2 separate regions of the Homo sapiens genome follow, and region 2 is linked to region 1. The links come from fine-mapping of genetic effects on gene expression. A gene starts in region 1. The other region holds a variant in brackets. All regions are shown on one strand. Distances are from middle to middle. Region 1 holds the start of LINC00539 (long intergenic non-protein coding RNA 539). Region 2 overlaps LINC00539 (long intergenic non-protein coding RNA 539).

Evidence for each region. PIP is the estimated chance that this variant, and not a neighbour inherited with it, causes the effect.
Region 2: its variant is fine-mapped to the expression of LINC00539 in whole blood (TOPMed, PIP above 0.99).

What each region holds. Positions count from the first base shown.
Region 1 is chr13:21,343,436-21,346,341 of GRCh38, forward strand. LINC00539 (long intergenic non-protein coding RNA 539) reads right to left here and starts at 1,424. Exons shown (of 3, transcript NR_103841.1): 1 at 1,231-1,424. It also overlaps the pseudogene MIPEPP3.
Region 2 is chr13:21,324,203-21,327,108 of GRCh38, forward strand. The region is part of intron 2 of LINC00539 (long intergenic non-protein coding RNA 539); the gene reads right to left. It also overlaps the pseudogene MIPEPP3. Among named protein-coding and RNA genes, the nearest start is that of LINC00539, 19 kb to the right of the region's middle. The variant T/C (reference allele first, on the strand shown) is at 1,344.

The DNA of each region.
Region 1 (2,906 bases):
GAGGCCCTCAGAGGCTCCATAATGTCCCCTAAAGCCACACAATCTTGGCCCAAGATTTGCTTGGCCCAGGGGCCTGGACGCTTGATCTCATAGATGGTCTGTCCATGTAGCTTGCAACACTCAAGAAGTCCCTCTCCAGTGAGGGAGCTCTGAACCCTGGCAGTGAGGCCTCTCAGTGAGGGGGCTTCTGAGCCCTGGCAGTGAGAAGCTCTCTGTGACCAGGGGACCCACCCTGCAACCTCCCCACCATTCCATAGCTGCCAGCACCTGTGCCCACTTCGAAGCTTAACCCTGAATGATAAGAGAGACCAGGAGCCAACAGCTTTACGTACGTTACTAATGAGCCTCAGAACAAACTCACAAAAAAATCTTATTCCTACTTCACAAACAAGAAGTTGAGGATCAGAGAGGTTAACTCAAATGACAAAGTCACACAGCTTTTAAGTCCCCTGCTCTTGGCACCAGACTCAGCAGCTTTGATGTGTTTGTTCTCTTCCTCCCTGTTTTTATTGAGGGCTTCTGAGGTGCCCTCCTTCTCCATCTCCTCCCTTCTCCTTCTTCTCCTCCTCCCCCTCCCCCCCGCCTCCTCCTCCTCTTCCTTCTTCTTCTCCTCTCCCTCTCCTCCTCCTTCTCCTTCTCCTCCTTCTCCTTCTCCTTTCTCTTTTTTAAATTTAAGAGATGGGGTCCCACTCTGTCACCCAAGCTGGAGTGCAATGGAATGATCACAGCTCACTGCAGCCTCAACCTCCCAGGCTCAAGCAGTCCTCCCACCTCAGCCTCCAGAGTAGCTGGGAATATAGGCACACCTCACTACACCTAGCTAATTTTTAAATTTTTTTGTAGAGACAGGGTCTTTCTGTGTTGCCCAAGCTGGTCTTGAACTCCTGGGTTCAAGTGATCTGCTCCCCCTCAGCCTCCCAAAGTGCTAGGATTACAGGACTGAGCCACCATGCCCGGCCAAGTCACCCTTCTTGAACTTTGATTCACCAAGCTCTTCAGTCCAATTTTACACAAGTGTGAACTCAGGTGTGTGCTTGTGATTCTTTGTTCACACACAGCCAAGTTGGCACAAGAAGGTGAAACAGAGAAAGGCCTCAGTGTTTTTGGCCAAGCCCACAGAAGGCCACCTAAGCAGGCTGGATGCTGCCCAGGGCTGGGCCACAGCGTGTCCTTTGTAAGTCAGCCATCCCAGCCCCCGAACCCCACACACACACAAAGACACACACTTACCCCAGGAGCAGCCCCACAGTGCAAAGGAGCCCACACAGCGGCTAATGGCTGCTCAGGTTTGTGTGATCTGTCTGGGTTCAGGCACAACCTCCAGGGGCCTCTGGCCCAGGTTGCATCTTTCCTGCAGAGCAGAAAAAGCACAGTTAAGAAAACCCCAAGAAGGCAGTCAGTTTCCTCCCTTGAGTTTCTGGGGTGGACTTCCGGCAGAGTTTTTGGAGGACTGACTGTTGCAGTTAAACAATGTGTCTGGCAAGAAGCGAGACTTCCTCCCTTCCTGCTGCCTGGCTCATGGGGCTGCAGCCTCCTTCTGGAGGTGGCAAGAAAGAACTGTGGAGTCCGCGATCTAAGGGATCCCTGGCAGCCCACGGCAGCCAGAGAACCACATCCGCTGGAGAACTCTAGGTTCTCTACGGCCTCTTGTTACTGCCAGTGCTTGTGTGGCTTGAGGTGGGTAATGCGGCAGCCTCCTGCAGCTAGCCCAGGACTGGGCAGCATGGGGCCAGGTAGTTAGTGTAGGAGAGTGAGCCCAAGCTTGGAAAGCAAGACTTGGCTCTGTCACTGGGCAACCGGGCAACCTTTTTTTGGTTTGGTTTTGTTTTGTTGTTTTTGAGACAGAGTCTTGCTCTATTGCCCAGGCTGGAGTGCAGTGGCATGCTCAAGTCCTGCCTCCCTGGTTCAAGCGATTCTCCTGCCTCAGCCTCCTGAGTAGCTGGGACTACGGGCATGTGCCACCACGCCTGGCTGATTTTTATATTTTTTATTGACGGGGTTTTGTCATGTTGGCCAGGCTGTCCTCAAACTCCTCCCCTCAAGTAATCTGCCCTCCTCGGCCTCCCAAGTGCTGGGATTACAGGCATGAGCCACTGCGCCCAGCCTGGGCAACCTTGAAGAAGTTACTTAGCTTCTCTGAGCCTCAGTTTCCTCATCTGTATAATGGAAGCAATAGTGTCCGTTTTGCAGGGCTAGTATGCCTGGTAAATGAGAATCCTCATAAGAGCCTAGAAATAATAGTGTCATAATGCAGGTGGTTCTACTATTACCAGTGACTAGTATTTGTTGAACACTGACCATAGACTAAGTTTTGTACTGAGCGTTTTATATTTATTGTCCCATTTAGTCCTCCAAAAAATCTAATGAGATATGACCATCCCCAGCTTACAAATAAGAAAACTGAAACTCAAAAAGACCAGCAAGTGACCCCAGAGAACTGCACAAGGATCTGCAGAGAGTGAGCAACAGGAGCCGAAGCCGTGGGCTCATACCAGGCTCTCTTCCTGCCTCTTAAGCCCATGGCACATTTGGAGGGTGCTACCTGAATTGAATGGGTGTGCCTGTTGTTTTGAAGTTGGGGTCTACGGCCATACCACCCTGAACGTGCCGGATCTCGTCTGAAGTTGAGGATAGGCATCATCTTTCACTTCAAAATGAAGAAACGGAGGCATTGGGAGGTTAAGTCACACATAGCCAGCAAGTGGCAGAGAGTGAAAGGAACCAGCATTGATGAGCGCCTACTGTATGCCAAACACTGTGCTTACTTCAAGATCCTGTGATCTGCTGGGTGGTTTTGGAGATGTTGGAGTTTCATTGACTTCCTACACTGCCCTGAAGAGGTCTTATTAGTATTAGCCCCATTTTACAGAGAAGGGAACTGAAGCTCCGTGCATGTAATTAGACTC
Region 2 (2,906 bases), 19 kb before region 1:
TGGATGCTGAGGCCCAGATAGAACCCAAAAAGCTCTGGGACCTGGCATAGACCAGGTGCTAGGTAACAAGAGATTGGCAGAGCCTTGCCCAGGGTCACAAATCAAGAGGAGAGATTCAAATGCAGATCCTAAAACTCCAGACCACCCCTCTTTTCTCTCTCCCTACCTGCTTGCTCAGTGCAGGAGACTGGGAGGGCCCTGAGCCAGGATGGGTTTAGACTCATGGAAGAAAATTCCATGGGGGAAAAATGTTTTTTCCATGAGAATCTGCTCTCATATAGCAGCCACACTTCTCCATACAGCCCAGAGACAGATCCTTCTAACATTCAAGCTAGTCTTAGGTCTTTGGGGGAGAGATTCAAAGATTCTGAATTAAAAAAAAAAATTAGACCCCCAGAACAGTAGAATACGATTCATGTCTGTTATGAATTACAGTTGGGTCTTTATCGTGCAGCAAGGGGTCCTCAATGGTGCCTACATCCTTTCTGAAATTGATCTTATTGGGATAACATGGCCAAAAAGGAAAACAAAAGCAAATAGTCATGCGTGTTTGGAAGATCTAGGACCGAGACATGCAAGTGTGATGGGAAGGTTCACTGCTCTTGGAAATTTAATTGCTGGATGGAAACAGACATAGAAATCTGGATTCCAACCAGACTTGAGCTCCATGCTAGCATATCAGACTGCCTGCTGGAATCCCTGTGTGGATGTCTCAAAGGCAGATAAAACTCAACATGCCTAAAAGCAAATGAATTGTTTCATGCTGCACCAGGCTCACCACCACAAAAGGGGAAATCAGCTGCATTCTCGACTTTAGTTGGTGACATCATCATCCCCCTAAGCCTCTCAAATGAGACACTTGGGATTTTCCCTCGGTTTTCCCTCTTCCTTATTCCTCCTGCCAATGTGCTGTTCAGTTCTCCTCTTCCCACCATCCACTGTCCCTTTGTATCTATCTTCTACCTATCTTTATACATCAACCCTTAACCGGACTCTCTGATTGCAATCTCACTCTCCTCTACCCATCACTGGTTTCAGAGAGATTTTTCTGAAATCCAAATTTGACCTTGGCACTCCTTGCTTACCACCTTCAATCACCCACCAGCATTGATGTGAAGGTTTTTTTTATGTGATTAACATTTAAATCAGTAAACTTTGAGTAAAGCAAATGACCCTTCATAATGTGGGTGGGCCTCATTCAATCAGTAAAAGGCTTTAAGAGAAAAGACTGAGGTCCCCTGAAGAAGTGGGAATTCTGCCTCCAAATTGCCTTCAGACTTGAGCTGCAACATCAGCTCTTCTGTGGGTCTGCAGATTTTGAACTTGCCAGCCCCACAATCACA[T/C]GATCCACTTTCTTAACTCTCTCTCTCTCTGTGTATCTGTGTGTGTGTGTATGTGTATACATAGCATATACATAACATATACATACATAAACATATGTATTTCCTGTTGGTCCTGCTTCTTTGACTAGCCTTGACTAACAGAACCATCAGACCCAGGCTACTCCATCCTGTGGCTCCACAATCCATAATATGTTAACTCTGGGTCAGAGCTGGCTGCTTGGGCACCAGACATGGTAGCTCCATTCCAGACAGCTGGAGAGAGGAAGGGACCTAAAAAGACATATTCCCTTATTTTAGGGACACTTCCTGGAAGTAGAACATGACCATCCCATTGGCCAGAACTTAGTCACATCTAGTTGCAAGGGAATTGGGAACATAGTCATGATTCCAGAACCATGCGCCCAGCTAAAAATCAGGAGGTTTTATATCATGGTAGAAAGGGGGAACAGACATGGCGCTACAGCAGGAGACAGTATCTGCTACAAATACCAAACGAAGGGCGCTGGCAATGAGCATTTTAGAGGTTAAGGGGAGATTTAATGCGGGCAGGGTCCGGCAGAGAGGGGCTGCACAGTGCAAGGGGACCGGGGCTGACTTTGAAGGAAGGGCTACTCCGCCCAATTACGAGAACACGTGAGCACCCTTGCCCCAGAGTGAGCATCAACACCGTGATCACGGTTATCACGTGGGAGGTCTGCCCAGGATCCCGGCAGTGAGGCTGCCCTGGAGGCAGGCTTGCTCCGCCACAGGCGCGCAGGCAACAGCAGCGGAGCCGAGAATGGCGAGGCCAGCGGGCGACCAGGCCTCCGGCCAAGGGCACGCGACCCCCCGCGCTTCCCGAGTGCTCCCCTGAAGCCTGGTACGCGTGGGCACCGGCGCACGGCGGTGCCCCGGAAACGCAGCCATCGCCTCAGGGCAGCCACTCACCGATGCGGTAATGCCCCAACGGGGCGTTTCATTGGCCAGCTCTCTTTCAGGCTCCAACTATTTCTTAGATTTTTTTTAAGGAATTGCAAATAGGCCTAAACAAAATCCAGATGCGAGGGAAGGGATGCCTGAACACAGATGGGTGGGAGAACACGCCCCGAGGTGCTGCTTTGGCAGAGAAGCCCTGTCTGCGAGCCCCGAGGCGGAGATGGCTCCCCAAGCCTGATGCAGACAAGAGAGCCCGCCCCTCCCCTGTCCCGCACCTGCTGAACTTTGGGGTCAGCAGAGGAATGTCCCCCGCTGTTAATGTTTTGTTTTTACTGTTTTACAATTCACATTTCGTGCTGCAGGGTGTACCGTGAAGCTACAACAGGGACAGACAGGTTTGTAGGAAGCGGCATTTCCCAAAAGCAACCTCTGAACCTTTTATTCCCGGAGCACATCACAGGTCCAGCGTTCCATAGAACACACCCTAGAAAAACGCTCCTGTGGAGGATCCGTCCCGCCAGGATCCCCAGCTGGTCAGGAATGCTGGGAGGGCCTCCTCACTCGGGCTATTCTCCCTCCCACACATTCATCTGAGGGGACAGGCTCTGGTTAGTTAGAAAATTGTAACATAGCAAGGTAGGAGCAGCA